3 separate regions of the Homo sapiens genome follow, and regions 1 and 2 are each linked to region 3. The links come from fine-mapping of genetic effects on gene expression. A gene starts in region 3. Each other region holds a variant in brackets. All regions are shown on one strand. Distances are between the middles of the regions.

What was found. PIP is the estimated chance that this variant, and not a neighbour inherited with it, causes the effect.
Region 1: its variant is the best candidate, but not a certain one, in a credible set for the expression of TM7SF3 in T cells (TOPMed, PIP 0.53).
Region 2: its variant is the best candidate, but not a certain one, in a credible set for the expression of TM7SF3 in whole blood (INTERVAL, PIP 0.89).

The regions. Positions count from the first base shown.
Region 1 is chr12:26,972,104-26,981,758 of GRCh38, forward strand. TM7SF3 (transmembrane 7 superfamily member 3) reads right to left here. Exons shown (of 12, transcript NM_016551.3): 8 at 8,463-8,543; 9 at 7,681-7,833; 10 at 4,157-4,254; 11 at 3,393-3,555; 12 at 1-2,124. The coding sequence ends at 1,862. Among named protein-coding and RNA genes, the nearest start is that of TM7SF3, 37 kb to the right of the region's middle. The variant A/G (reference allele first, on the strand shown) is at 4,913.
Region 2 is chr12:26,947,714-26,959,021 of GRCh38, forward strand. FGFR1OP2 (FGFR1 oncogene partner 2) reads left to right here. Exons shown (of 7, transcript NM_015633.3): 2 at 6,432-6,580; 3 at 8,830-8,947; 4 at 9,888-10,030. The coding sequence starts at 6,446. Among named protein-coding and RNA genes, the nearest start is that of FGFR1OP2, 15 kb to the left of the region's middle. The variant T/C (reference allele first, on the strand shown) is at 4,764.
Region 3 is chr12:27,008,253-27,019,560 of GRCh38, forward strand. It overlaps TM7SF3 (transmembrane 7 superfamily member 3), which reads right to left and starts at 6,132. Exons shown (of 12, transcript NM_016551.3): 1 at 5,826-6,132. The coding sequence starts at 5,916. RefSeq lists a silencer at 5,825-6,324.

The sequences.
Region 1 (9,655 bases), 37 kb before region 3:
CAGTGCTCTGAAAGCTGGGGGGAAAGCCCCTGAGTAGTAAGTATGCAACCCAGGGTGTCGGGTGCTTTCTTGTGGTGAAACAAGGGTGTCAAAACTGAGGGGACTCTCCAAGGTCCTAATGAAAAGCAGCTCCTCTAAACACCTGAATCCTTTTTGACTCCATTCTCATCACTTTAAGGATGAAGCCTTTCTGTACAAAGGCTTTGTACAGAAATTATTAAAAACTATATTTTACACTAATGCTAACAGCTAATTGAGCAGAAAGAACTATGAAGTACAAATTTTTCTAAGGTTTTCTTATTAATGGCAATACAGACTTTTTTTTTTTTTGAGACGGAGTCTCGCTCTGTTGCCCAGGGTGGAGTGCAGTGGCGTGATCTTGGCTCACTGCAACCTCTGCCTCCTGGGTTCAAGCGATTCTCCTGCCTCAGCCTCCCGAGTAGCTGGGATTACAGGCACCTGCCACAATACCCAGCTAATTTTTGTATTTTTAGTAGAGACAGGGTGTAGTAGTATATATTCTACTATACTATAGTAGAGACCACTATGTTGGCCAGGCTGGTCTCGAACTCCTGACCCCAGGTGATCCACCCGCCTCGACCTCCCAAAATGCTGGGATTACAGGTTTGAGCCACCGCACCTGGTCGGCAATATAGATTAAGGTGGGGGTTATTTCCTAAAAACAAAAGTAATCCATATGTCATCTAATGCAGTTAAATTAAAGATCACCTGTTGACACTATTTGAAAAGGCCTTGAAAAAAAAAAGGGGGCCATTATTTGGAATATAAATCACCCTTATAAAATTCTATTATCTATATAAATTGGCCTATTTTCAAATAATAATTTAGCTATTTCAATTACCATTTTAAGCAATAAAAGGCAAAAACAAAGGGAACCTACTGAATTGTACACTTAAACATGAATAAGAAGGTAAATTTCATGTGTATTTTATCACAACTTAAAAATTTTAAAAAATACTGAAAAAAAAACAAAGGGTAACTTTTGGATAATGTATGATACTAAGAAGGGCATGCAACTAAGTAATCAGACTGCTTTTAGTAAGAAAATAAGTTTTTTTTTTTTTTAATTTCTCGAGACAGGGTCTCTGTCACCCAAGCTGGAGTGCAGTGACACAATCAAGGCTCACTGTAGCCTCAATCTTCAGGGCTCCAGGGATCCTCCCATCTCAGTCTCCTTGGGAGCTGGGAGTAGGCATGTGCCACCATGCCTGGCTAATTTTTTAATTTTTTTGTAGAGATGGGGTCTTGTCATGTTGCCCATGTCGGTCTCAAACTCCTGGGCTCAAGCGATACTCCCACCTTGGCTTCCCAGTATTGGGATTACAGGTGTGAGCCACCATGTCTGGCTTGCTTCTCTTTTTGTATTCTAAAATTCAAAGGCCTAAGTATCAAATCCCTAAATCTCCAAATACTGTCACAGATAAAGACTCAATAATAAACTCCCTCCGAAAGTTTAGACAGGCTCAGGTGAGAGACTTGTTTCAAGGGGTTATAAAAAGAAACACCAGTGCTCTGCAGAAGAATCAGTTTTTAATTTTTTTAATGTATCTATTTAATGGAATAAGTTGATCATAGATTTGTAAACCAAAAGGTAATTTCTCAAGTATTTGGAAATAAGAAAAAGCCTCCCTACCACCAACCTTTTGGTCATCTTTCTCATTCTCTTACAATCATCCTAATCCCCTAGTACACCCTTACCATATATCAATAAGGGCACCATAATATTATGCAAAGAACAGATATATATGCCTGATCTCTTATTAGACTTGCACCAGAGACTGTTGAACCACTCCAGGCATGAACTCCAAAGCTGAGGCACACTGACCAAGCCCCTGGGCATCTACAGAAGCAAAGGCGTTCTCTCTCCAGCTGGCTGCTCCTTCTGGAAGAGCCCTTTAATCTGGGTTAATCGGCCATAGAGCCTCTCTCTCAATGGAGGAATGTGGTAGCTAGGGTCCAGAATGTTTGTCACTCGGCGCTCTCTCTCTTGCTTCCATAACTTGTATGGGTGGGGAGGGAAGAACGGTCGTCCTCTCTCTCTTCGAATCTGTAACGTAATTCCACTTACAGCCAGCATGCCCCATACTGCCAGGATAATGAAGTCTAAAAAACAGTAGAAAAAGTACAGTTTGAACTCTAGTATTTTAAAATCTAACATAATAATACAACCCTTCATGGACTAAATCTGTATATTCCTTTCTAATAGACTTTCTGGTGAGTTAGTCCAAACACATATGTAGTTCCTCAGTTACAAACCAAGGAATCAGTAGGGAAGCCACAGTCTTATTTTTGAAACTAGGAATTTTCTATTACAGGCATTTGAAAGTCCAGACAGGTTGTAAAAAAATCAGTTGTTTGGATCCTTGGCCTTCCAACATTATGTAACAAGTACCCACAGTTGTTTGTGTGTTTTTTCAGAGGGGGTTCGGGGAGGAAGGCAGTGATCTAGTTACACTTCACATATGTACATCATGGAACATCAGATTCCACCACGCTCATTTCTTTCCCATTCCACTCTACATGGGGCCCTACTGCACTCACAGTGTAGGTATAGGAATGCATGAAAAGATTCAACCAATCGTACTCAGCTTCTAGTAAAGCTTCTAGCTTGGCAAAACACTGTCTGGTACTTAAAACTTGCAAGAGTTTTAAGGTTTTCAAGGATTTCAAGGTCTCTACCATCAACCTCTTATCCAAAGGGAAAGCTCTGGATAGTAAAGGGAAAGATTTGCCCTAAAATAAAATCACAACAATCACAATTGTGCTTATGCAATATATCTTCAATTCTAGGACATGCTTTTTCACTCTCCACATGTCAACATTTCTGAAGTCAACATATCTTACAATCTGAACAATTCATGTGGTAGTCATTTTTTTCTTCAAAAAATTTATAGAAAATCTGTAATGGATAGAATCTTACAAGTGAGGGAAACTATATGCTTACTAATTAAAAACTCTTTCAACTAGCAAACTGCATGCTTCATTAAAGGAGGGAAACAAGGGAATAACTTAACATTAAATCAGGTTGTCATTCTCATCCCTTATTCCATCCCCACCCATAAGTCTCAAACATCTTTACTGTCAGTATTTTTCTCCCCTCTGAGAATGACCAGGTAAACCTAAATAATCTTGGAAATTTCTTAATGAAATTCATTTAGTAGATTTTTATCTTCATCTTAAAATTTTAAATGCTTTACTCCCATGATCCTGAGTTATCATAACAGAGGGTTCTCACAGCATTGTATGCTGTGTTCCCTCCTTTTGTCCCAGTTGACTTTCTTTAAATTTAGTTTCCAAGTGCTCTGGTTAGCATAGGTGGGTCAAGACTCCTACTGTGCTGTCACACTGGTTTTTGGATTTAAGAGTCTTACCATTAGTTTGAAAAGGCACATTTGTGAAAGCTCTGTGGAAATCCTTGTTGAGCGCTCTCTTGAGTACGTTCAAAGTGATGTAGGAAAGGCTTGTGGACCAGTAACTGTCAATGGCTAAAACCACCGAATAGGAGCCAATGACTCCACAAGTCAGTATGTTCAGCTGTGGAAGAGTGGAAGAGTTTAGGCATCATCCATGTTAGAACAAAAATAGTTTATAACTCTCCACTGGCTTCAATCACAGGCAATCACATCTGCTCCCTCAGGCATGAAAAAGGACCAGACCCACTCAGAGCTGAACAGAAGTTCCCTGGAAAGATAAACTGAAAACAACCTTCAACATCCATATGAGTTCTTAAAACACAGTTCAGCTTATCCAAATACTATGGAAAATATCTTCCATATGAAGGAACTTCAACAATAAAATCTAATTAGAGGAAGAATCACTCTTCTGAAGCCAGTTGAAACTAATGACCCATCAGGTTGGTGTACTAGAGTAAGCACTACCTTCTCTGCTCCCACTGTTAAAAGCATATTGACTGTGATGCTCCATTTGGTGGAAAAAAAAGAAAAAAACAAACACCATGTGGTAATCATAAATAGAACTTCGTTTTCACAGTAACAAGGCTATTTAGAATCAGTCATCTGATACAGGTAACACAGCCCTCCCCAGTGAATAAAACATGCAAAATGATGAAATAAGTGATCAGCTGAACACACAGGATAACATAATCAATAAATCTAACTTTTGATGAAACACTTACTATTCTTAGGCAGCCCATGAAAACTACTGGAATGAGGATAGCTATGCAAGAGAAAGTGACCCAGAATACACCATCATCATGAAAAATCTTTAGGTTTCCTGAAAAAGCAAAAAGAAACTAAGAGTAAACAACAGCTTTACCAAGTTAGAGTTGGTTTCTTGGAACATCTGAACACAGATATACATCAAAGCCTTAAAGTAACAACCAGGGAATATGTTGGCAACTAGAAATGAATTCTAATTTTCTTCATTTAACTGTCAATACAATCTTCTTTGAAGGATGTGTTCTAGAAGGTGGGTGGGAGGAACCAAGCAGGTCAACGCTCTGCACTTATTAACAAAATCATTTAGAAGACACTGGAATAGTCCAAGCTCTTCCATTCACTAGCTCTGTGAACTTGAGCCTCAGTTTCCTAACCCTCAAAATGACATTGAATTATATCTCCAAGCTCTAAATCACCTGTTAGCTCTACATTGCTGACTTCATGATTTCATACTGCAAAATAAAAAATACAAGTAAAAGGCATTCAAAGTTAAGCCATGAACCCAATGTAAACAGTGAGTCCACTTAACAGATTTTTACCGTCAAAGCATGTCCTGTCATGCCACTGCACACTGTGACATGTGATTTCCTCATGTATCAGGAAAGAGGAACCAACCAACTATCTGCTCTTCCCAAACCCTTCTCCTGCTGCTGGACTCTAAAATGCTGCACAACTTAGGCCGACCCAGAACAAATATATGAGAACTCCTCTTT[A/G]TAAATTAAGTTTAAAAAGCAAGAATAGGCTGACTGCTGTTTAATACTGACACTGGCACCACCATTCAGTCCATCTGTAAATGGCCCCATACCTCAAGACCTACATATCCAGGTCAGAGTGGAAGACTGGGAGTCCCTAGGCTACAGGACTGGACCTTGAGACTCCATATTCTCTGAAGCCAACAGCAATATGCCATTGAGGTGAACTTATAGATTCTATTCTCTAGTTTAACTATATTAACCTTCACAAAATACATATGTGGCTTTCTTGTAAAAGGCTTTCAAGAAATCTAAGTATTGAAAATAGTTACGATGCATGCATGTGAAGAACGGACCCTTTCAGAGAATAAGCTCATTGCTTCCCACATAAGGTGAAAACTAGCAATCTAATCAGATTGTAGTGGTCAGCCAAATATTTTTTAAATGCTAATGCTTAAAAATATGGGTAGGCCTCTTGGCCGGGCATGGTGGCTCACGCCTGTAATCCCAACACTTTGGGAGGCCGAGGTGAACAGATCACTTGAGGTCAGGAGTTTGAGACCAGCCTGGCCAATATGGAGAAACCCCATCTCTACTAAAAATATAAAAATGAGCTGAGCATGGTAGTGTGTGCCTATAATCCCAGCTACTCAGGAGGCTGAGGCAGGAAAATCACTTGAACTCGGGAGGTGGAGGTTGCAGTGAACTGAGACTGCGCGACTGCACTCTAGCCTGGGAGACAGAGTGAGACTCCGTCTCAGGAAAAAAATAATGTGTGTGTGTGTGTGTGTGTGTGTATGTGTGTGTGTGTATACATATATAGGTAGGCCAGGTGCAGTGGCTCAAGCCTGTAATCCCAACACTTTGGGAGGCCGAGGTGGGAGGACTGCCTGAGCCCAGTTTAAGACCACCCTAGGCAACAGTGAGACTCTGTCTCTACTAAAAATAAAAGCTTACCAGGCATGGCAGCACACACCTGTAGTCCCAGCTACTTGGGAGGCTGATGTAAGAGGATGGCTTGAGCCTTAGAGTTTGAGGTTGCAGTGAGCTATGATAGTGTCACTGCAGTCCAGCATGGGTGACAGAAAGAGATCCTGTCTCTAAAAAATAAAAATATGGGTTTGCACCCACTAGCATTGAGGAGATGATCACTCTAACGGTCCTTGAGCTATGAGATAGTTCATAAACAAACATATATAAAGGGTATATGCTAAAATTATTTTTACCAATAGGAATAGTTATGTCAAAAAGTTTAGAGACAACTGCTCTAGACTACTTTATAAAGTTGAAAATTAAGAGACCTCTTTATTTCTGTTTTCTCATTCCTCACATCTATCCTATGAGATAGTTTCACAGATGATGGAACAAAGTTTCAATACATCGTCCAAGGTTATAAGCTAGAAAGGGAACTAGTGACAGAGCCAGAATGCATATAGAAGGTTTTTTCCTGACTTTATAATTTATGCTCATTCTCCTCATGAAAAGTACATTAAATTACTAGAAATTATAACCTATCATCCCTCCATCCTCTAAGCATTAACAAAAGAGGGGAAGCCCATTAAGTAGTAGTTGGTTTTTGTGGTCTTTTTGTTTTGTTTTTGAGACAGGGTCTTGTTCAGTCGCCCAGGCTGGAGTGCAATGGCACCATCATAGCTCACTGCAGCCTCAACCTCCCGGGTTCAAGCAATCCTCTAGCCTCAGCCTCCCAGAGTAGCTGAGACCACAGGTGTGCACTACAACACCTGGCTAATTTTTTTTTTTTTTTTTTCAGTAGAGATGGGGAATCACTATGTTGCCCAGGCTGGTCTCAAACTTGAGCTCAAGCAATCCTCCCACTTGGTCTCCCAAAGTGCTGGGATTATAGGCATGAGCCACCATGCTCAGCCATTAGGAAGTATTTTATTTAGCACATGTAGGGTAGAGCCTTGAATCTGTATTTCAAAAACATCCCCATGTGAATCTGTCATTTCGCCAAGCCTACACAACACTGCTTTTCATCAGACTATCCAGTAGTCTTAGAAAAAAAAAGTCTTCAGAGAGACAAGGGACACATGACTTGTACTCTATTATATCCTGCATTCTCTATAGAGTTGACAGCCTCATGAAATGGCTATTTTTATGTCTAACAGTCCCATCAACTTTATTCTAGTATTTTAAGAACATTGTCACAGAAAGGAAACAACCAAATAGAATACTTTTGAGTACAGATGCTGTTTTTGTTTGTTTTTGACAATAATCAGGAAATGTAAGTTATTAAACAATGGCAAAGAAAGTTAACTTATAAGTTAACCAGATTTTAAAAACTGATAGCAATTGAATTACTTTTTAAAAACACCAAAAAAACCCCAGAACCAGCCCTGTGCTACTGCCCCAGGGTGATTAAGTACCTGAGGGACACCTGGGGTTTGGCAGCGGATGGGAGTGGAGGTTGAGGGTACAACAGAAGACCAGAAACAAAGTACCAGGTTCCCCGACTCAGCTGCCATCAGAGCCTTTACCTCCTTATTTCCTTTACCTCCATTATTTCTAATAAACACATACCACTTATCACAACAAATAGATACAAAGCTACCTCTAAAGACATTCTATATTTCATCTACTGTGCCTTTGAGGAAGGAGGGACTTTTACTAGTCCTGGTGCTGTCTGAAAGTGTCACACCATCAATGCAGATTTCCAGAACTCCACAGGAGAAGCACTGACATGCAACACCACTCCAGGATGCAAATCCAATTAGGCAGTATTCAAACAGTCACTCGAACACACAAAACATCTGTTACATATCGCCTACCCAGTGGAGTAAAGAAAGTCACTGACGAGATGAGGAACCCCAGCACTAGTCCAACACAGAGCATGCAGATCGAGAGGATTCCAAATCGCCACCACACAGCTACCAAGAACATTCCACCGACGCTTCCAGTGACAGCTGTCAGAATCAGATTCACTGTACAAAGAGAGAGGATGAACTGCTGGATAACCGGCAGTACTTCCAACCGCGTGCCTTAGACATACAATACCGTTACCAGTGCCAGCTTCAGCTTTCTGTAGGTCAGGCACTGAGGGCTCTTCAGTGGTGCCATGAAGCCAGCATAGAGCAACCCTCTCTAGGGAGGGGTCTGGGCTGAGACAAGGAAATTAGCTAGGGAGCTAAACCTCACAGGGCCAGTGACAGGCTTGGCTTGTCAATAAATTGGGATTGAGAAGGAAAAGTTGACAAGCATTCTGTTAAACATAATGGGGTAGGGAGGTATCTGTTTTCAGGTAAAGAAAACCTCAACATTTTGCTTGTTGTACATCTCATATCTTCAACATATCACATAGCCAGAACACAGGTCTATAATCAATATGGCCCCTCCTTTCCCTAAGTACCAAGGAATTCACCATACAGATTAAAAACCCAGAAGGTCTGAATGAGTAGTTCAGAAAAGGTGTTCAGAGACTAGATGGACCATTATTTTACATAAGTAATAGGCTGTCACACACAATATAGGCCAAACTGTAGAAGGAAAGGTGAAGTAAAACACAGCACCTGCCTTCTTGAATACCCAGTTAAACTATATAATTTTCACTTACCATCATACTTGATAGGTGTCAGTCTTGTAATCAGTATATAAAAGAAGAATCCCATGATGATAAAGCCTATGAAGAATAATTCTAAGTGGCAAACCACCAGGAAAGGAAAAAAGCAAAACAACAAAAGCTATGGTTAAGCACCCTTTTTACAGTGCAATTTAAATATTTAATCTACAAATACATGCTTAAGCTCCTGGAATTTACATGTTACAGCATTCAGAAGAAAAAAAAAATCTAAAAGGCAGAAGAAATTCAGCAGCCATGGGAGTAATTATTATTAAACAGATACAATATTAAAGTACCAACTACAGGATACACTTTCTTGTATATAGGTCAGTTTCCATTGTTAAATTGTTATTTGTTCATTTCATAGCTCATTTTAATATATTTATGTTTTCTGCTTAAAATAAGAATAGCACTTTGTCACGTGTATGTGATACGAAATTACACATTAAATTTTAATAGTTTTGTAAGCAGAAATAAAATGTAAAAGGTAAAAGAAACCCAAACTGTCCCAAAGCAAAATATAACTTTTATATCTTCTTTTAATTCATCCTATCCTGTTTAGAATGATCAATCATTACCTTCATCCATTAAAACACCTGGTAATGCAAGTATACAGATAACTTTGTTCCCACAAATAAGCCTAATCCTGATCATGGAGGCCATAGCTCTACCTATTTTCTTAAATTCTTCACAGCTGTTCTTGGTAATACTTGTACTGTATCTCAATTTCAATAAATATAAAATGATACATATCAACACACCAAAAAAACCCAGAGTGAGGCATGGTGGCTTGTGCCTGTAGTCTCAGCTACTTGGGAGGCTGAGGTGGGAGGATCACTTGAGGCTAGGAATGTGAGGCTGTAGTGCACTATAATTGTACCTGTGAACAGCCACTACACTGCACTCCAGCCTAGGAGACACAGTGAGACTCCATCTCTTTAAAAAGAAAAAAAAAAAGCTAGTGATAACTTTGAGACCACAGCTTAGCAACTAAGTTCTTTGTTACAGAATCATTCTACATGTTGAGATATTATATATTCTTTACAATACTCTCTTCCCAATTAATAAAAAAAGTGTCATAATAGCAGGAAAGGAGTTGCTATTTCAAACAATTTAACATAAGTTTAAAGAGCTTTATTAGATCAGGATTACATTTGAGCTACCTTGATGCTCAGTTATACAACTTG
Region 2 (11,308 bases), 61 kb before region 3:
TTTAAAGTGAATTTTATATAAACAATGCATAGTTGGGTCCTCTTTTAAAATTCTGATCATCTGTCTTAATCTTATCTAAATATAAATGTCGAGGACATTTATATTTAGTGAAATTATTAACATGTTTGGATTTAGTTCTGCCATCTTATCATTTGTTTTCTTTTTGTTCCTTTGATATTCCTTTGTTTTGCCTTTTCTCTGTCTTTTGGGTTATTGAACACTTTTTAATTCATTTCAATTAATCTATTGTAGTTTTGACTATTATCTCTGTGCAGTTATTTTAGGGATTTATTAGGAATTACAATATATGTAAATTTTTAAGTCTACTTAAAATTGATATTTTTACAACTTCAAGTGAAATGTAGAAATCTGATCAATGTATAGGCCTTTTTAGCCTCCTCCCTTTTTCTTGTAGTTATATATTTGCCTGCATAAATTAAAAATCTCATTAGATAAATGTTATAATTCTTGTTTTTAAACATTAGACATTTAAAAGAACTAAGAGGAAAATAATTACCCAGATATTTACAATTTCAGTTGGTCTTCCTTTGTTCCTGATGTTCTAAGTTTCCTTCTGATAACACTTTGCTTCTAACTGAAGAGTATTCTTTATAATAAGTCTACTGGAAATAAGTTCTTCTTTCTCTTCAGCTGAGAATGACTTTTATTTCACCTTCATATATGAAACATATTTTTGCTGGATATAGAATTTTGGGTTGATAGGTCTGTTCTTTCAGCATTTTGAAAGTGTTGTTCTACTTTTTACTGGCCTTCATTTCTGTTGGGAAGCCTACAGTCATTCAAATTGTTCTCTATGAGTAATATGTCATTTTTCTCTGGCTGCTTTCAAGATTTTCTCTTTGTCTTTAGTTTTTGGAAATGTGACTACAACGTGTCTGGAGTTAGATCTTGTTGGAAACTCCTGCCTGGGGTTTCCTGAGGACTGGGAATGATGAAGACAAGGTTTCTTAGAAGGAAGCAAAGTGTTACATCATCGAAATGTATAAGTTTCAACTATTGAAGTTAAATATGTTTTTATATTATTGGATGACAAGTTAGAATGCGCTTGGGAGAATACACAAAATACAGTATTTTAGTCATTGTGAATATTGTGTCTTTTCGGTAGGGGACTCTTCTAAGGTATTCATAACGTAAACATACTAGAATATTTAAGAATATTGCCTGGCATGGTGGCATGCACCTATATAGTCTCAGCTACTCAGGAGACTGAAGTGGAGGGTCTTTGGAGTCCAGGAGTTCCAGCCTGGGTGATGGCAAGACCTCGCCTCTAAAAATAACTAAACTTAAAAAAATAATAATAAATATTTCTAAACCATGGAGAGAGGCAACTCCATAAAATCTTCTTAGAGATGTTCAGAAAGTTGTTCAGGAATGGTTTTAGTCGTTGATTCACCATTACAGTTTTTCTTTTTCATTTTGAGATGGAGTTTCGCTTTTGTTGCCCAGGCTAGAGTGCAATGGCGCGATCTCAGCTCACTGCAACCTCCACCTCCCAGGTACAAGCGATTCTCCTGTCTTGGCCTCCCAAGTAGCTCAGATTACAGGCTTGCACCACCACGCCCTGCTAATTTTTTTGTATTTAGTAGAGATGGGGTTTCATCATGTTAGGCTGGTCGCGAACTCCTGACCTCAGGTGATCCACCCACCTCAGCCTCCCAAAGTGCTGGGATTACAGGTGTGCACCACCACACCTGGCCTACAGTTTTTCCAGATTAATTTATTTACAAATGAAGCATGAATTAACCAGTATCCTATGCTATCCAAGGTAAGTTTTCCCATTCGTGTTTAATATTGTGGCCATTTTTTTCTACTTAAATGAAATGTTTCATGGAGTAGTATCTGTTTGAGGTTTTTTTTGTTTGAGACAGAGTTTTGCTCTTGTTGCCCAGGCTGGAGTGCAATGATGCGATCTTGGCTCGCTGCAACCTCTGCCTCCCGGGTTCAAGCGATTCTCCTGTCTCAGCTTCCCGAGTAGCTGGGATTACAGGCGCATGCCACCACACCCAGCTAATTTTTGTATTTTTAGTAGAGATGAGGTTTCATCATTATTGGTCAGGCTGGTCTCGAACTCCTGACCTCAGGTGATCCACCTGCCTCAGCCTCCCAAAGTACTGGGATTACAGGAGTGAGCCACCGTGCCTGGCCCTGTTTGAGGTGTTATGTGGTACTATCAAGTAGCCATTCTGATTATGTCAGTTTTTATCTTCATGGATCTTACAACTTGATGGTCACAATGGTTCTTTTGAAATTTGACAGGCCAAATTTTGTGTATCTATCATGGAGTCTTTTAACTTCTTCATGGGTTTATTTTACAGTTTCATATGAGGCTTTTGCATAAGGACATTTAGTCAAAGCATCCCGCTTATAGTAACGAACTTTAAGGTATTTCTATGGTATCTACAATATTGTTTCTACCTTTATGATAGCAGTTATATTAGGCAGCTACCATCAAGCCATCAAGTAGTTAATGTATTCGTTGTTTTTTTTTTTTTTTTTTTTTTTTTTGAGACAGAGTCCCGTTCTGTCACCCAGGCTGGAGGTGCAGTGGCACAATCTCGGCTCACTGCAAGCTCCGCCTCCCGGGTTCACGCTATTCTCCTGCCTCAGCCTCCTGCGTAGCTGAGACTACAGGCGCATGCCACTACGCCCGGCTAATTTTTTTTTTGTATTTTTAGTAGAGACGGAGTTTCACTGTGTTAGCCAGGATGGTCTCGATCTCCTGACCTCGTGATCCACCCGCCTCGGCCTCCCAAAGTGCTGGGATTACAGGCGTGAGCCACCGCACCTGCCCTGTATTCATTGTTTTTAAAAGGATATCTGAGAAACCTCTTTTCTTTGCAGCATTTCAGAGAAGTGGATTATTCTAAAAGCATATCACCTATTCATGTATATATTTACTTTCAGTAAGTTGCTCCATCTTAGTGGAGCACAGTTAAGTCATTTGATCAGTCTGGCTTCTGGTAAGAAATTGAATTTTATCACAGTGACTGATGTACCTGTTGCATATCAAGCCTGATACTGCTGATTTTTGTTTTTAAGATAAAACCCATTAACAAACAGTAAAGTCAGGATTTGGTACTAGAAAATTCAAAAGTTTTGTTTTGGACTTGAATACTTCTTGAGTTATGGAATCACAATCATGAGATTTTCCTTGCAGTAGGTAAAGGTTGCTGGATTAATACTGTTACACAGTGAATGGTAATATGAAAAAGAGAGAGTAGCAATATTTCATGATTACTCAAATGATAGAAATTTTGGATGGTTTCCTTTAGCAATAGGGATTTACTATGCATGGTAACATGAGGTTTAAAGACCTAGAATAACCTCTGAAGATGCTTTGATTAATTCAGTTGAGGTTTATAATTGCTCGGAGGCAGGGAAGCTAAACCTTAGCTGCTGAATTAAGGTATACGATTTTTTTTTTTTCTTTTTTTGAGATGCAGCCTCACTCTGAGGCCCAGGCTGGAGTGCAGTGGTGCTATGGCTCACTGCAACCTCTGCCTACTGGGTTTAAGTGATTCTCCTGCCTCAGCCTCCCAAATAGCTGGGATTACAGGCACCCCCCGACCAGGCCCGGCTAATTTTTGTATTTATTTATTTAGTTAGTTATTGAGACAGCCTGTTGCCCAGGCTGTAGTGCAGTGGTGCAATTTTGGCTCACTACAACCTCTGCCTCCCAAGTTCAAGCAATTCTCTTGCCTCAGCTTCCTGAGTAGCTGGTATCACAGGTGTGTGCCACCACGCCCAGCTAATTTTTGTATTTTTAGTAGAGACGGTGTTTCACCATGTTGGGCAGGCTGGTCTTGAACTCCTGAATTCAAGTGATCTGCCCTCCTCGACCTCCCAAAGTGCTGGGATTACAGGTGTGAGCCACTGCGCCCAGCCCAAGGTATACAATATAATAGACAGTGGGGTTTTGATGTCGTGTTGTTAATACTCCCAGGACACAGGGTACTATTTTTGTACTCAAAAAGATTTATGATTATGTAGGAAGACTATCTAGACTGAGGGCTATTTAGCTATCTGATCATATATAGGACCTTATTGCGTTTTATTTGGAAACAGATCCTGTCTATTGCATTTGTAGATGTTATGTTTTAGTGTGTAAAGAAGGGTTCTTCTTATAGTAGTCCCAACAATATCATTTACAGATTAGGACTGTTAGAGAGTTCTATTACTTGAGTTCTATTAAACCAAGGTAAACTTTATTTTCTCTCAAATCTTTTACAATTTGTTGTAGAGTTTCAAATTTGTCTTTTATTACTTTCACCATCTGTTATAAACTATTATTTTTACTATAAAACCAATTTTTTTGGTTATTTCATTTTTCTTAGTACAAGTCAGTGCCCGTCCTTTTTTTTTTTTTTTTTTTTAATTTTGCTTTACAGACAGCTTTAAAAGTTTACTCAGAAGGATCCGATGTTCTATAGTAATGGGATTAATGGGAGTTATAGTGATGTCCATTTAACCTATTTATGTTAACTTTCTTAACAAATAAGAAAGTTGTCTGTCTACAGTTTTAGATAATTTCCTTTGGAAATTTAGAGGAAGTACAGGGTATTGTTGGGCACTAATGCCTCTCTCAGAACGGCATCTTCGGATAGATTTTGGGTAGTTGTCCTTTTGGGTATTAGCCAGTATCAGACAATATTGGTTCCTTTAATGGCCCTTTTACTCCTCATATTTTCAAGCATCCTTATCTAAACCTCCTGAATCTTACAAGACAAATCTTGTGGTGGTTT[T/C]CTCTAGAGAGCCAGAAGTTATATTAATTTCCAGCTTGTTTACTTCTTAAGGCTCTCTGGAAATGTCTGATCATATATTGGACATTTTCTAAATTGGCGATTTAAATAACAGGAGAAAGTCTTCTGAAATTGCCTGATGTGTTTTATGAAATATTTTATACTGTTGAGTTATTTAAATTTTCTCTTTGCTACTTGTTGCTTTTTTTTTTTTTTTGTATTGGAGGGGATAATCATTAATTGGACTAGTTGGTACAGATCTGTAGTCCAGGGCAGTGGTATATAACAAAGTCCTGAATTCTGTGGCAAATTGCTGTTTTAATAAAGTTGATGAAAGTCTTTGTTTATAACCCTTCACTTGGATCTACACCAAATTTTAATTTAACTTCTGTAGACGTGGCTTCTGGCCTGGTAATTTAGTGTGATTTTATTTTTTGAGGAAACCCTGAAGAAAGGATGACTTATATTGAACGTTAGGTAAAACTTAGTAGAAAGATAAAAGATTTCAGCTGGGCACGGTGGCTCACACGTGTAATCCCAGCGCTTTGGGAGGCCAAGGCGGGCGGATCATGAGGTCAGGAGATCGAGACCATCCTGGCTAACACAGTGAAACCCCCGACTCTACTAAAAATACAAAAAAATGAGCCAGGCGTGGTGGCAGGTGCCTGTAGTCCCAGCTACTCGGGAGGCTGAGGCAGGAAAATGGCGTGAACCTGGGAGGTGGAGCTTGCAGTGAGCCGAGATCACGCCGCTGCACTCCAGCCAGCCTGGGCGACAGAGCGAGACTGTGTCTCCAAAAAAAAAAAAAAAAAAAAAGGAAGATAAAAGATTTCAAGGAGGGTAAGTGTAAGTTTCAGGAGAAACTTAAAGTTTTGGAAAGAGACTTTAAAATTATTAAAATTTTGTTTGAGGTTTCTACATACCAGTTGAAGAAGCTGACAATTGACTGTTTCATGTTTTGTCTCATATTTCTTTCAGCTACTCTTAAACATATTGCTTACTGATTTTAGCATATCAGAAGTTTCCTGTAATTACCAGTTTTGTCCTAAGTCAAAACTTTTTTTTGCACTTTAAGGAAGATGCAAGAGTTAGAATTATAATGCAACTTTATGTAAGAAGCAGAAGTTCTTCCAAGAAGAGGTTGAGACTTTAATGTAGCATGACACATTGAGGCCACTTCGGCTGGTCAGCAGTGTTTGTGAACAGTGTGTCAAGTCACCTGACCAAGCAGAGGTTAGGAAGCATTCTTACAGTCAAAGTTTTCAGACAGTCATTGACCCCAGAATACTGACCAGTAAACCAAATGATCTTCCTCAAAAGTGACAAGATAGGGAATGCCCTCATAAAGGGCAAATTTCTATATAACATTATATTCCTTGGACATGTACTTTTTTCCCCACTGTAAATTTAGAGTGTTTTAAATGCGTTCTAGTTCTGTCTGCAAATCTTTTAACTGTGTTCTAATTTTTTTGTAATAGTATAAATTTACTTTCAAGTTTGTAGTATCCTAACAGAAGCAAAACCACAGTGTTCTTAGGTGTTTTTTCCTCCCTGGACAGTGAACAATACTGTAACAAATGTGGCTTAAGAAGCATATCTGTGTTGACATGAAGCTAAAATAAAGAGATATGTTGACTTTATTTTGAGTCTTGATTTTAATTTTAATTATAGATATATCTTTAGAAATGAGTTGCACAATTGAGAAGGCACTTGCCGACGCTAAAGCTCTTGTTGAAAGATTAAGAGATCATGACGATGCAGCAGAATCTCTGATTGAGCAAACCACAGCTCTCAACAAGCGAGTAGAAGCCATGAAACAGGTTTGATTTTTCTTTCTTGTTCATTCCATTTATCAAAAGCAGTCATTGACATTTATGTATTGCTGGCTAATTAGTATCTAATTTTTTTCAACATTCTCTAAAATTTTAAAGTAGCTTGACTTGTGTGTTTCAGGTTTACTTTAATTTTGTCGTGTTCAGGTGATATACCTAGACATATATTTCTAAACCCTAGATTTGATCACTTATTTTGCTGACAGAGTTGCACATTTGAGTTTAGAAAATAAATGAATTTGTTAGGTCTAGAAACATTTGACAAAGACCAGATAATACCTTTTACTAATGTTGGTACACATTTTGTTCTGTCTTGTATAATGTAGAAATGTTCATATTTTTCTTTATAAAAGTACTTAGGTGATGCTGTTTAACAACAAAATAGCTTTTGAAAATGATGCAAGGTAATATGTGATTTATACTCTGTGCAGTTATTGTACCCATACTTGCTACCTTATTTTTCATTCAGTGCTACCAATTAAAGAATACATAAGGGCTTTCTTCTTGCTATTTTTACTATTGTATAACAGAATATTCCCATGGGCCACGGAGTTTAGACACTATTTTAACCTTCTTCTGATAAAAATTTTCAAGTCATTTAAGAAAATTATAAAATCTCTGACATTATGATGGAAATCAGAGGGGGAAAATGTATATTCACAGCCAAATCTCCTCATCTATTTTGTAAAAGGAAGCAATTCTGGGATAGTATTTTTAACAAAGCTACTGGAAATAGTGGAGCAAGTTTAGTTATTTGGTTTTACAACTGTGTTGCCCTAAACAGATTTACCTGCATCCCTAACCAACTGTCCAGCTAGACTCAGGCACTTCAGTGAACATATATCTGGTATTGAGTTGTTAAAAAAGGAGTTTGACATCTGAAGTTAAGAACCAGGAGTGTTATAATGAATATGTTACTAAGTGTCTCATGAGAATGCCTTGAAAATAAATAAGTGCAATTTTAAAATAAGATTCTCATTTTCTTAATGGAAAATCTTTTTGCATTTCTTTTGTACATGTTCTATTAAGATATTCACATACCATAAAATTTACTTTTTTGAAGGGTACAGTTCATTGGATTTTAGTACACATTTGCAGGTTATGCAGTATAACCACTACCTGATTCCAGAACATTTTCATCACCACAAAACCTTACATCCATCAGTGGTCTCTCTCTAGTTTCCCCTTTCCTCAGTCTCTGGCAACCACTAATATTTCTATCTCTTTGAATTTGCCTATTCTGGACATTTCATATAAATGGAATGATAAAATATGCGGCTTTTTGTGATTGGCTTCTTAACATAATGTTTTTAAGGTTCATCTATGTTATAGCATGTATCAGTACTTCATTCCTGTTTATTGCCAAATAATATTGCATTGTAAGGATACAGCACATTGTGCTTATCCATTCATCAGCTGATAGGCATTTGGATTATTTTACTTTTTTGGCTGGTAAGAATATGCTGCTATGAATATTTGTGTACAAGTTTCTGTGTGGACATATGTTTTCAGTTTTCTTGGGTATATATGTAGAAGTAGAATGGATGGGTCATATAATAACTCTGTTAAAATTTTTTGAGGATCTGCCACATTGTTTCCCAAAGCAGCTATGCCAAGCTTGTCCGACCTGTGACTTGCTGGCTGCATATGGCCCAGGATGGCTTTGATTGCGGCCCAGCACAAATTCACAAACTTTCTTAAAACATTATGAGATTTTTTTTTTTTAAAAAAAAGCTCATCAGCTATCGTTAGCATTAGTGTATTTTATGTGCAGCGTGATAATTCTTCTTCCGATGTGCCCAGGGAAGCCAAAAGATTGGACACCCCTGAACTACATCATTTTACATTCCATCAACAATGTATGGAAGGTTGCAGTTTCTTCACATCCTCTCCAACAATTGTTATTGTCTTTTTCATTACAGTCATCCTCGTGGGATATATTGAATTGCATTCTCCTAATGACTAGTTAGGTTAATTAAGTATCTTTTCATGTGCTTATTGGCCATTTGTATATCTTCTTTAGATAAATGTTTATTCAAATCCTTTGCCACTTTTAAAAATGGGGTTATTTTCATTTTATTGTTGAGTTGTAAGTGTTCTTTATATATTCTGGATACTAAGCTCTTATCAGATTTTTTATATGTATATTTCAGATATATTTATATTTATATATCATATATATATATATATATATATTTGCAGGTATTTTCATCCCACATGTTTTTCTCCCCCATTAGTATCAGGAAGAAATTCAAGAACTTAATGAAGTCGCGAGACATCGGCCACGGTCCACGTTAGTTATGGGAATCCAGCAAGAAAACAGACAAATCAGAGAGTTGCAACAAGAAAACAAAGGTAAGATACGTTACTTTTTGACATTAATCCCATTTCTAGTCTATATTCCTAAATCGTATTTATTGCTCTTTATCCTGTCCCACATATGAACATCTGCCTGGTTGACATCCTCTTAGATTCTCACCCTTAATATCCAGTTAGCACTGCTGTTGTTAGCTATGAAATAACCCAGCTTCATTCTCTGCAGTCCCACTGCATTGGCCCCCAGATTAGATGCTCAGTCTCTTGCCTGAAATGTCCAAACTGATCTCCCTGATTCCAGTCTCTCTTCCCCCTTCCAATCTGTCTTCAACATAACCATCAGATTGATATTTCAAAAATCAGTCTGATCATGTAATTCTTTTGCCTAAGAACTTTCATTATATACTTATTACCTTTTACAGGGTCCCTAAAAATCATTTCCCAGCCTTTTTTTTAAATCTTCTTCCCACAGCTTTCTTCACTGTGAACTCTTTGCTCTTGCCAACACCAATCACTTCCTAAACACGTCATCTGTTTTCATGCCTACCTGCTTAGAAGGTCCATTCCTTCACTTTTCAACTGAGGGAACTCACACTGTACTTCTACAAAGCTTCCACCAGTTTCTTCCCATAGACATCTCTTAAATCTATTTGACTTAACACTCCACTCTGCCACCTACCACATGCTTGTTTTCTCTACTAGACTCTTGAGGTCTGTGGCCCTTAATATAGAGGGAGCCTTGGCCGATATTAATTGCTGTTTAGTACATCTTTGTTGAAATGATTCTCAAGAAACAAGCTTAAAATATTCAAAAAACTAATACGGGACTTCATTTGGTGTCTCTTATTGTTATATGGCTAGATTTTTGTGCATTGTGTTTTCTTTTTAAAATGTCCCGTTCATAAGTTGCTTAGTGGAAGAGAATATTTTGTGTACTTTTAACTCAAGTTGGAATAAAATACAATATTATTCTTGATAGAATTACGTACATCTCTGGAAGAACATCAGTCGGCCTTGGAACTTATAATGAGCAAGTACCGAGAACAAATGTTTAGATTGCTAATGGCTAGCAAAAAAGATGATCCGGGTATAATAATGAAGTTAAAAGAGCAGCACTCCAAGGTAATCCATTCTATAAATGTGACCTGAAATGGAAAAGAGAGACGATTGATTATTCTGTGTTCAGATTTTTTTTGAAAAAAATCACAGGTATCTAGTAATGGCATTTTAACATGATGTTGAATGTTTCATCTTTTTAATTGACATTTTCTCCTTTTTCTTATTTTTCCATTTCTTGTTATATATCATTTTCTGTTTGATTTATAAACTCTCACTGTTTCTTAGAAACTTTAATTTGTACGTTGAAAAATAAATTTTATTTTGGATATAAAGGTAAGTCTGGTCTCTTCAACATTATTTTTGTAGGGCTATATACTTTTAAGAAATATTTCTTAAAGGGCTGGGCATGGTGGCTTACGCCTATAATCCCAGCACTTTGGGAGGCCAAGGCAGGAGGATCACTTGAGGCCAGAAGTTCAAGACCAGCCTGGGCAACATAGCATGACTCCATCTCTTCAAAAAGTAAAAAAATTAGCCGGGTGTGGTAGCACATGCCTGCAGTCCTAGCTTCTCAGGAGGCTGAGGTGGATAGACCACTTCAGCTCAGGAGTTTGAGGTTACATTGAGCTACGATCATGCCATTGCACTCCCATCTAGACAACCGAGTGAGACCCTGTCTCTTAAAAAACAGAAATTTTTTTAAGAAACATTTTTTCTAATAAATTTGTGTATTGACTTCTCTTGCAAAAACAAAAAATAATGGAAACCTTTTTTAAAATCTGAAAGCAGTTTAATGTAGATTTTTCTTAAGACTGTTTTCTGAATAAGGCTAATTCATCCAGACTATAAATGATCTTGTTTATTATAATGGAAAAAACATGGGGTTCAGGAGAAGAACCAACATAGTAAAATTTTGCTCCCTTGCCCCAGTATTGTATACCAGTTGACATCATTTTTTAGAAACAAAGCTGAAGTAGTTAGAAATTAGTGTTTTACCTGCTGTTCATCCCTTTGTCATCCCTGTGTCTATTCCCTTTGGTATGTCCCCATATTTTATGGCATATTTTATGGCAACTGCTATGAAGACAAGTAGAATAATCCTTTCTCACATATTTATTTTAAACTGAGTTTTAGTTGCTGATATGAAATAAAAATAATAAACTAGATTGTGGAAACTAGACTGTTACCTGTATTAGATAATGGTGAGCTGACTATTATTATTACCAATATTATTTAAGAAACAGTGATTATGAGCCTTCTTTTCCCCATTTGTTACAACAGAAATAGGAAAGGACATATTTTCATATTTATCTATTATTGAAACACATTTTAGATTCTTTA
Region 3 (11,308 bases):
CATTGTGATTTTAATTCGCACTTCCCTAATTACTCATGGGTGTTAAGAAACCTTTGCTTTGCTTATTTGCTATTTGGATATCCTCTTTGTGAAACAGTCTGTTCGAGTCTTTTACACATATTAAAAATGGAACTGTCCTTCTTCAATTTTAGGAGTTTTTAATACATCATAGATATGAGTATTCTGACAGATACGTTGCGAATATATTCTCCCACTCTTGTTGCTTGTCTTTTCACTCTGTTACCTTTAGATTAACAGTTTTCATTTTAGCAGTCAATTTCAGGTTTTTCCTTTATGATTAGTCCCTTTTGTGTCATTTTAAAGAAATCTTTGTCAACATATACCAAGATCATGAAGATACATTCCCATGTTAACTTCCAGAAGTTTGTTTTATCTTTCACATTTAGAGCTAAAAATCAAGCTGATGCTGATTTTTACACATGGTGTAAGATAGAGGTCACAGTTCATTGTTTCATATGTTCATCTACTTGACAGCAACCTTCACTAAAAATACCACCCTGTAGTACCCCATGTTCTCTCACTTATAAATGGGAGCTATGTAATGTGTACACATGGGCCTACACTGTGGACTGATAGACATTGAAGACTGAGGAAGGTGGGAGGGGGCCTGAAGATGAGAAATTACTTAATGAGTACAATGTACATAATTCCAGTGATGGATACACTAAAAGCCCTGACTTCACTGCACAATATATCCTGTACCTACACTTGTGCTCCATAAGTTTATACAAATAAAATAATTTAAAAATACCACCATCTCCCCACCCTACTGCTTTGCAGTTCCACCTTTCACATAAGTCAAGTGAACATATGTGTTTGCTTCTAGAGTCTCAATTGCATTCTACTGGCTTATTTGTCTAGCTATAGACACCAATCCTAACACAAATATTACAACTCTCTTAACTCCTGCTCCAAATTTGTTCTTCCTCCTCAAATTTATCTTGACTATTTCTGATCCTTTACATTTCCATATAAGTTTTAGAAATCAGCCTGTCAATATCCACACACACACAAAAAAACCTGCTGGGATTTTGATTGGGATGGCCCTGAATATATACATTAATTTAGGAAGAAATGATACCTTTAAAATATCTTTATCTTTAGAATTTTGTAATCTATGAATTTCCGATATTCCTCTATTTCTTTAGTTTCTCAATTTATCTAAAGAATGTTGAGATGTATTATGTTATTTTCTCTGTAGAGGTCTTTACATATCCCATGATTATCATCCCAGAATACGTAATGTTTCTTGAGGCTATTTTAAATGTACTTTTTCTTTTCTTTAATTTTATTTCTTAACGTTTTGTAGAGATGAGGTCTTGCTATATTGATCAGACTGGTCTTGAACTCTTGGCCCCAAGAGATCCTCCCCCACTCAGTCTTCCAAAGTGCTGGGATTACAGACGGAACCACAGCACCCGACCCTGCTTTTTCTTTTAAATGTCTATTTCTAGCTGTCTCTTCACCAATATATCTTTTATAAAAAGTTCTCCATGTAATTCTAATGTTTAGCTGGGTTTGAGAACTCCTAACATAGTGTTTGATAAACAAGCAAAGGATAAATATGTATTTTTTTCCCAGTCTTAGTTATCTCTAACCTAACATCTGTGTGAAAATACTTTGGCAGTGTAACCCTGGCAATCTAACATCCATTGTACAATTTTTTTCAGAAGATTGCTTTAACCAAACCAGTTGTGGTTTGATTCCTGGCTGTGCAGGATTTTGTCATTTTTGATGTTCCAACGTCTAACACAGTATAGTCACCTAACTGGCATACAGTAAATGTTTGTTAAATGATGCCTGAACTATGTGACCTCAGGCAAGTAATGTACTTCCTCTGGGCTTCAGTTCCCTCAAAGTAAAATTGAGGTAACTGTGCTGCCATCAGTTGGCTGCTGAAAGTATCAAACAAATGGGAAACAACTTTTAAACTGCCCAAGGCTACACAATAAAGCATCATTTATTAATTTCCATTAGCTTTCCTGTGCTTCACACATTCATCTCCTTATTGAAAGAAAAGAAAGAAAGAAAGACAATCAGGCACTCAGAGCAGCCCTACGAAAAAATTAGTGGGAAGAAAGGAACTAACATGTACAGGGCATTCACAGAAATTCCAGGCACATCATAAGCATTACGTTGAGAAAGAGACTTCCGAAGAGTGACAACAAAAGATACTGAAAGTCAAGACAACTTAAACAGCTCAGTCTGGTAGAAACTCATTTAATTTCTGCTCATAAAAACAGATTTAGCAAAAGAAGACACATACTCAAAAAATATCCTGAAGAAGCTAACAGGAATTTAACTTCACCTCTAAGGCATATGGAAAAGGATTTATTAGAAGCATTTTATGAGGCATAATTATATCTTATGACTTGCAGAGTAGGAGGAAAAAAGACAGCACATCAAAAGATATTACAAAGCAAATGGCTAACATCAAGTTGGGGCACTTACATTAGCTTTCCTCTAAAAAGAAATGGCTTTTTTTGCCATCTGACCTATAGTAGGGACTTGAAACAATTTTTCACACCCATCTTCCATTCTTACCCAGAATCACTTTTTCTTTCCAATAATTCCACTTTAAAAAGAGCTGCCCAATCCTAATACTTTCCTTTTTCTTTCCGAATCAGATCCTAATCTGGCAACCATAAAAATTTCCAACTCTTCCTTTTTACTATTTTACTAAAATTTACTTCTACTGTTTGTGTTTCAACACAACAACCAAATTCTAAGAGAAATCCATCATAGCCTAGTCTTCATAATTCTCTTCACATTAAAAACAAAAATGGTTCAGCTACTTGAGTTGGTCAGCAGTCAACCGCCCCTCCCAATTTCTCATTGTTATCTTCTTACAAATGTTCAATAGCCCTAAAGGTTGAAAGGGAACACAAAAATGAACATATTAGCTTCACACACTTTTTAGAGAAAGACAGCACTTGCAACTAACCATGAACAGCCTGCTACCTTGGTAAAGCATCATCAATAGCAAGAAGACTGAAAGGCCCAAATGATGCTGTGCTCAAGTCCAATTACTATGAAATTCCACGGGAGTTACTGGATATGAATCTAAACAAATGAAAGATGTTAAAGGCAGCAGTGAACTGGGACTCCAAGAGAAGGGAAAACTGCTTAAAAGTATGATCCATCTCATGTGCCTACTGGTCACAGAAAGCACCCTCCTCAGACATTCTAGGAACTCCATCTGCCACGTTCCAAGATTTATTTAGCATTCAGGCCACTACAGAAGTCATGCAAGTTAGCTCATCCTGCCAAAGATGGGTAAATCCTCCTAAATTACAGCAGATGCTCAATTTCTTCAGTTTGTATGGTTATCAGAATTATCATCATCAAACATCAATCCAGCCATTTTCTAGGAGGATTATGCAAGTCCTGAACTATGTCCTTCTACCTTTCTATACTGATTTTTAGCTGATAGATGTGGAGAATATCAGCTTTTATTATCACTCAGCAGTTAAGTCCCCACATTGTCCCTCTTCTGCACAGAATGACAATACCAATGCAAGGCAAAAAGAATAACATTGAGGAATATCAGTGCTATAATCATAGCAAAGAGGCAAAAAGCAGTGTCTGAAAAAAATTAATTTCTCAATTTATTCATATTTTTTAACTTTTGTATAAAAATTTCTAGGTATTAAATACTAACACCAAGTAGAAAGAAAAAGTTCTGGACGCCTGCTCTCCTGACTCAGGGGCTGGCCTCGATCAACTAAAAACTCTAATATCTCAAATTCTTCACCTGTTAAAATAGAGATAGCATCTCTTCTACCTCCATCATAAGGCTATTTTGAAGAATGAGGATTCACAGAAGGATTAAGTACAAAGCACCATGCCATGTAAGATATTCTTATTGGAAGACAGCTTTACGGAAGTGGAAGGACTATGAAATTTGCAGGGAGACTCACCTGGGTTCAAGTCCTATCTGTAACCCTAGCAGCTGTTCATTTGTTCCTCTGACAAGGGAGGAAGATCATTACATTGTAGGGTGGTGGGGATTAAATAACACTGCACGTGGAAAGCACCTGGCACACACTATACAGAGTGAATGTTAGTGCCCTATTATAAGCAAGGTTTTTCTGCAAAAAAAAAAGTTGCCCTTTTCAGCTTTGGCCTCAGTCCTATATACAAAGATCCTAGAATTCAGTTTGCACAAGGGCTTTTCAAAGATAAGTGCATAGCAACACAATCACATTATTCAGAAAATATTATGTTTCAGAACTGCAACTAGTCTATTAACCTCAAAACAAAACAGAATGTGCTTAGTTTCATGGAAAAGCACATGATGATCTGCCTGGCACAACTAGTGCCTTTTACATTTTATATTAACAAACCATGAGCTGTTGCCCAAACCCATTCACCAAGCACAAGACTTACAATCTAACATCCCATTCTGAGTTCTCACTGAGATGAACAAGAATTACCTGAAATCGGCCGGGCGCGGTGGCTCATGCCTGTAATCCCAGCACTCTGGGAGGCCAAGGCGGGCAGATCACGAGGTCAGGAGTTCGAGACCAGCCTGAACAACATGGTGAAACCCCGCCTGTACTAAAAATACAAAAACTAGCTGGGTGTGGTGGCGGGCGCCTGTAATCCCAGCTACTCTGGAGGCTGAGGCAGGAGAATTGCTTGAACCCGGGTGTCGGAGGTTGCAGTCAGCCAAGATCATGCCACTGCACTCCAGCCTAGGCGACAGAGCGAGACTCCGTCAAAAAAAAAAAAAAAAAAAGTCACCTGAAATCATCAAAAATGGTGTACTCATAGGGAGCCAAGCCCGGGCATGTTGCTTCTTGGCTCCCACAGGTGAATTTGAAGTGGCAATAGAACTTCGTTGATTCTTGTTTTTCTCATTTTAGTTTTACTCTCTATTAAATTGTTATTTTTTACAGTTCATTTATGGATGACAAGTTATTTCCTGTTGGTAGCTGCAATGATTGGGAATTTTGTGATCTCTGTAAACGAATTAATATCTCATAGAGATCTATTTCCTGTTGGATATGAGACAACAGAGAACACAGTTTTTGTCCATTTGTCTTTTTTAAGGTCAAATCGATTAGAAATTTCTTGCCCTCAAGTAAGGAGAACAACTCTGATACCTGGACTGGCAAGCTTTTGTGTTTCTGTGTTTATTTTTCATTTGTGGCTGAACTTGTAGAATTGAGGGTATACACATTCTATCTGTATGTCTATGTATCTGTAATTCAGAAAGTCCTTTATTTCTCATTGTGAGTATGGAATGTTTTCCTGTCTCCAGATGGTATTAATAAATTAGATGGTAAAGGCTCTTTAAAAATAAAGCCTCATTATGGGTTCATTTTCCCTCTCAAACTCTGTAGAACATAACCAGTTTGAAAAGCCTCTAGATTTGGGGGTGTAAAAATTCCATGCAGCTTGAGAGCCATCAGTCATTAAGCCGCTAGTTCCACCCCAAGTCTTGCTGTCCAGAAGCTCAGACAGTCCACTGGGCAGCAAAGAGGCGCTTTAGTAAGTTGAATTAAAGCCACAAACATGGCTGCTCCCTAAGGGAGATAATACTGTGTTAAAAAAAGAGAATTATTTATCTCTTCCCATTTCCTCCGCTAAATGAGGAGGTTAATAGTAAGACCTCCTTAGCCATGAGTGTTTCCGCTGCAGGAAACACCATTCGTGCCGGTTCTGGACTCACCACCCAGCGTGTACCAACGCCCCCAGCACCATCTCCCTGCTAGGCTGACAGACCCCTGGCGGATTTTGACCTCGCAAGAAATGCAAAAGCAACTTTGGGTTGCAGAAGCCAGGCGCCCCGACCTTACCCTCGCTGGAATTCCCGAAGACCTCGGCTGCACCAGCCACCCGGTGTTCGGATGCCAGCACCGCTACGACCAGCAGCTGCAGGAACCCCATTGCTGCCTGGGCCGGGCTGGGCCCACGCCAGGGCTGGGGAGAGGTGCGGGCGTGCGCGCCGGGGCCCCGCAGCCTCGCCCACGCTATCCCGGGGCGCCCGCATCGGGCGCCATCGCCCGCCAGGTGCAGACGCTTCGCACCTGCCAGCTCCGCAGCCGCCGGCGCGCGCCCCGCCGAACTCCTAGCCCCAGCGAGAGGTTTCCTCTTCCGGCACCTGACCCCCAACGCGCGTTCCCGCGCCTCCTCCCGGGCTCTCGCTGCGTCACAGCGGCGGGTCTCTGGGCGCGGGCGGCGCTGGGGCGTTTCCAGGCAGCGCGCGCCTCCTGCCGGCGCGCGGGGAACGCGCAGCCTGCGGTGCTCCCGGGAGCCCCCAGGAAGTCCTGGCTTGAGGCCCGGTCTTGCCCCACTTTTATCTCACCAAGTAGGCAAACCCACTGTGAAAGTACAAAATAACTTTCTGTTGCGGACTAACGTCGCCAGGCTCCTGTTTCCGTGTTTAACGGCCCTTTACAACAGCAAAAAAGAGGAATCAGTTGCTAAAAACACAATTGAAGGTTATTTCCCCCGGTAGCAATTGTCTTCGCTGCTGAGGCTTATGTTAGCATAAAAATGCCAGGAGAATGCTGTTTGTGTAGTGGTTACCGCACTAGTCATAAGCACTACATTTAAAAGTAGTTTCGTTTTCTCTAAGCGAAATATCCTCGAAGACACGGCCTTGGTCTGAACTTCGTCTCAAGTCTCATACCTGAGTGCTGTTTGAGGGACAGTAGTCCATGTGACAGATGGCTCATCGATGATGTGGAATTAGACGCATAGACTTAACGTTATTTGGGGAGGATTGTCTTGCTTTCCTTCCCTGGTTTTAATTTTTTTCACTTATATATTTTGATGAGCAACTTATAGCTTGGAAATTACATGTTCAGTTAGTCCACTACTAAGCTAACAATATATAGCTGTGACCATAATGTGAAGAAGTGTTAAAGACAAAATTATTCAATGATACTTGTTAAAGCACCGAACGAAGACTATTGAGGACTGTCTCAATTGGCATAGGGACCACTGCAACTGGGTCTTGCAGTGGGGAAGAGGGACTGGGCTCAACTCCGAATACAGCGTGGGCAAGAGGGAATTTATAGCCAACCAGCAGTATGGAGTTCAGTGGATGGAAAATTACTAAGAGGAAGCATCAGAGGTAAGGGGCATTTGGTGAAACTGACCTAACAGGACTTCTGAAGACATAACATCACCTGGGGGATGGTGCAGGGTGAGAAAACTGATTAGATATGGAGGAAAGGGGGTTCTTTGCTAAAACTGGATTTTTACAAAGAAGTGCACAGATGGACCTAGCAGAAGATTCAGAAGCCGTACTAGAGTTTGGCCAAGCAAATAATCTTTGTCATAGGCACAATTCTTTCTCTGCTTTCCCACTGCCTGGTCCAAATTTTCACACCTTTGGTAGCACTATCTATTTCTGTAGTGCTTATTCACTCTCCCACATGCCCCTATTCCTATAACCCTCAGTAGATGAAATCCAAGGAAGATGAAAGGGACAATTATGATAAGGGTAGCATCTGAATCAGTGGATGGATTATTCAATAAATTGTGTTCTTAACTGATTAGCTGCACTATGGGCAGAGAGAAGCAGAACTCTATCTCACACTAATTGTGAAAACAAAATCCCAAAGTAATAAAACCATAAAAGAGCTAGCAGAAGAGGGCGCTCTTTTTTTTTTTTAATAAATTGATCTCAAAATGGGAGGAGCTTTCTAAGAAGCAAAACAGCAAAGGAAACAACCATAAAGGAAAAGATTGGTAGACTTGGCTACGTAAATGCTTTTTACATAAATATTTAAATTTTATTAAAGTAAACACACAAACAATATGAAAAGGCAAGTTGACCAAAAAAAAAAAATTAGCAAAGGACATGAATGGGGAATTTCACCCCAAAAAAGAAATACAAATTACCAGTAAATACATGAAAAAAGTTCAATCTCACTAGTAAACAAATAAAAAAATCAAATTAACAAACTAAGATGTAAACATTTTAAAAGTATAAAACATCCAGTGTGGATAAAAGAGCTAAGAAGGAGGCATTCTTAGGTAGGGATACTGGGAATATACACTTTAATAAAGTAATCGGCATCAAAAATGTTTAAAAATCTTATTTTTGTAGATTTGGTATAATCCACTTTTAGATTTAAGTACATAATTAAATACACATATAAAAATTAGTATAAGCTGGGGGAAGTGGTATGCGCCTGTAGTCCCAGATACTCAGGGGGCTGAGGCAGGAGGATTACTTGAGCCCAGGAGTTCAAGAGGGCAGTGCTGTATGATTGCACCTGTGAATAGCCACTGCCCTCCAGCCTGGGCAACATAGTGAGACCCCATCTCTTAAAAAAAAATAGTGTACAGAACTATTCATAGAGTATTATTTAGAGTAGCAGAAACATCTAAAACAACCTAAATGCCCAACAATTAGGAGTTAAATAACCTATGATAGAGCTTTATAAGAGGATCCTGTGCAGCCCTTCATTTATATTCTGATTGAAGTCTTTATGAAAAGGCAAGTTATGATGCAATAAGTATATATAGTACGTGGCTTTTTTTTTTTTTTAACATACATCTTTTATTGACTCAGAGGAATGGATACTTTTGTTGTTTGTTTGTTTTTTTAAATGGAGTCTTGTTCTGTCCCCCAGGCTAGAGTGCAGTGGTGCAATCTTGGCTCACTGCAACCTCTGCCTCCCGGGTTCAAGCAATTCTCCTGCCTCCGCCTCCCAAGTAGCTGGGATTACAGGCACACACCACCATGCCCGGCTAATTTTTGTATTTTTTTTTAGTAGAGATGGGGTTTCACCACGTTGGCCAGGCTGGTTTGGAAATCCTGACCTTGTGATCTGCCCACCTCGGCCTCCTGAAGTGCTGGGATTACAGGCGTGAGCCACCACACCCGGCCTGTAATTTTTTTTTAAGAGACAAGATCTCACTATGTTACCCAGGCTGGCCTTAAACTCCCAGATGTAAGAATTAAAGAAGAAAGAAACAGGAAAGGTGGCTTAGAAGTCAAGGACAAGTTTATTTTAGAGAAAACAAACCTGAAAGGGGCTTCTGGCCAGTTAGGTTAGAGGCACACTCTCTTACGGACTAATAAGAGTTTTTAAGGATTTAGGGTGGGAGAGTTTATCAGAGGCTTGGACTGCTTCTGTGTCTGTTGTGCTTATCTGGGAGGGAGAGTTGTGTGTCTGTTCCCATACATCTTTTTGCAGCTGCAGGCATACCCCCGAGTCTGCTTTTAGCTTCCCTATCTTAGTGCACCTGAAGGGAAAGGAATGTACTTACTAAGGCCCACTGTTTTACTGGGGCCCATTGTATGAGGGTGAAGTTTGGCAGTTACCCAAGAGAATTTCCCCCCACCTCCCTTTGTGCCTGAGCTGTCTTATCTGTGTTTTACTGTCTGCTCTTTCTGGCTGCTTATAGTTAGAAGAGAAGTGATTTCCTTGAAATGCATGAGGCTAGAAAGGGAGCTGGAACTTAAAGTGGCGGTGTTTGTCCGAGATGACGGTGCTCCTGGTCTGTCACCAGACTCAAGCAATCCTGCCACCTCAGCCTCCAGACTAACTGGGACTACTACAGGCTCACACCACTGTGCCTGCCTTGTTTTCTTTGTAGTATGCATTCCTGGTTATGTACATAGAAAAAAAGGTTGAAAAATATATGCCAAAATGTTTAAAATAGTTATCTTTAGGTGGTTAAATTAAGAATGATTTCCTTTGCACATTTCTGTGTAAAAGTTCTACATTGAAGTGTATCATTTTTAAATAAGAAATTATGATTTTGTAAAAGATACATATAATTTTAAAGGTTTTCTTATAAAAGCATTCAAGATATAAGTCCACCTTCCTGAGTATGACACATAAATGCTTTTTGTGATGCAACTCCTGCTCACCTCCCTAGGTTCTTGCTGCAACTAAAATCAGACCTCTACATGCTGGCCACATTGAATTAATTTCAATTTCCTGAACTGAGCCTATTCTCTCTCCTCCATACCTTTGCATCGCAGTTCCCCAGGCCTGCAGTTGCCTGTGCATGCATGACAGTTGATGACAAATGTGTCAGCAATCAGAACAGGGCCTCATTACCTTGGCTTCTAAGTACAGTATTGTGACAGCTTGGGAGGATGATTGGCTGGGGTTCCATGCTCATGTCAGAGTTCCATTGGAGAGCTGAGAAGCAAACAAGCTTAGCAGCTTTGCAGATTAGTTCATTTTTCCTATGTATTGAAAGGAAATGCAGAAACTGAAAGATTCCCAAATCCAAGATATGCATCATTAGAGGCTTAAAGTCTGTTTAGGCCAGGCGCAGTGGCTCATACCTGTAATCCCAGTACTTTAGCAGACCAAGGCAGGAGGATCTCTGGAGACCAGGAGTTCAAGATCAGCCCAGGCAACATAGTGAGATCCCCATTCTTACACACACACATACACACACACACACACACAACCAGAAAAAAAAATTAGCTGGGCATGGTGGGGCACATCTGTAGTCCTAGATACACAGGTGGCTGAGGCTGGAGAATTGTTCGAGCCTAGGAGTTTGAGTTTGCAGCGAGCCATGATTATGCCACTGTACTCCAGCCTGGGTGACAGAGCAAGACCCTGTATCTAATAAAACAAAAGTCTGTTAAAATTTAGAAGAGGAAGGAAGGGCAGGAGGGAGAGAAGGAGGAAGGGAAAAAACTTACCCTAGCTTTTTAAATAAAACCTAAAATACCTTAAATGGAGCTGGGAGTGGGGATCCAGGGAAAAGGCAGGATTGAACCTCTGTGAAATTTGCCCATTCATTCTTTCCCACTCTAATCTCACCTTCATCCTGTATTTTTTAATTCTTATGCTCTTTTGTGGGTAGTAATTTACATTCTTTGTTCATTAAGTTAAATTCAGTAAATGCTTGTTTAGTAGCTATTATATGGAAATTATTATGCTAGGAAACTCATTCATTTGGTTGATAAATATGTGCCAGGCTAAAAGTTAGGTGCTAGGTACTGGAAATATGGAAACAGAATATGTTTTCTGCCTGCAAGTAGCCCATGGACTGGTGGGTGAATTAGCGTGATGTACAAATAATTACAGCACAGTATGCTAAGTGCAATAACAGAAGTGTAAGGAACAATTGTGTTAAAGATTGGGAGCATTTAACTTTCAGAATTCAGGAAAGGCTTTTATAAAGAGATGTTTAAAATAAGATTTTGTTCACTAGTATAGTGGCAAGTAAAAAAAATAATAATAGGCCGGGCACAGTGGCTGACGCCTGTAATTCTAGCACTTTGGGAGGCCAAGGCGGGTGGATCACCTGAGGTCAGGAGTTCAAGACCAGCCTGGCCAACATAGCA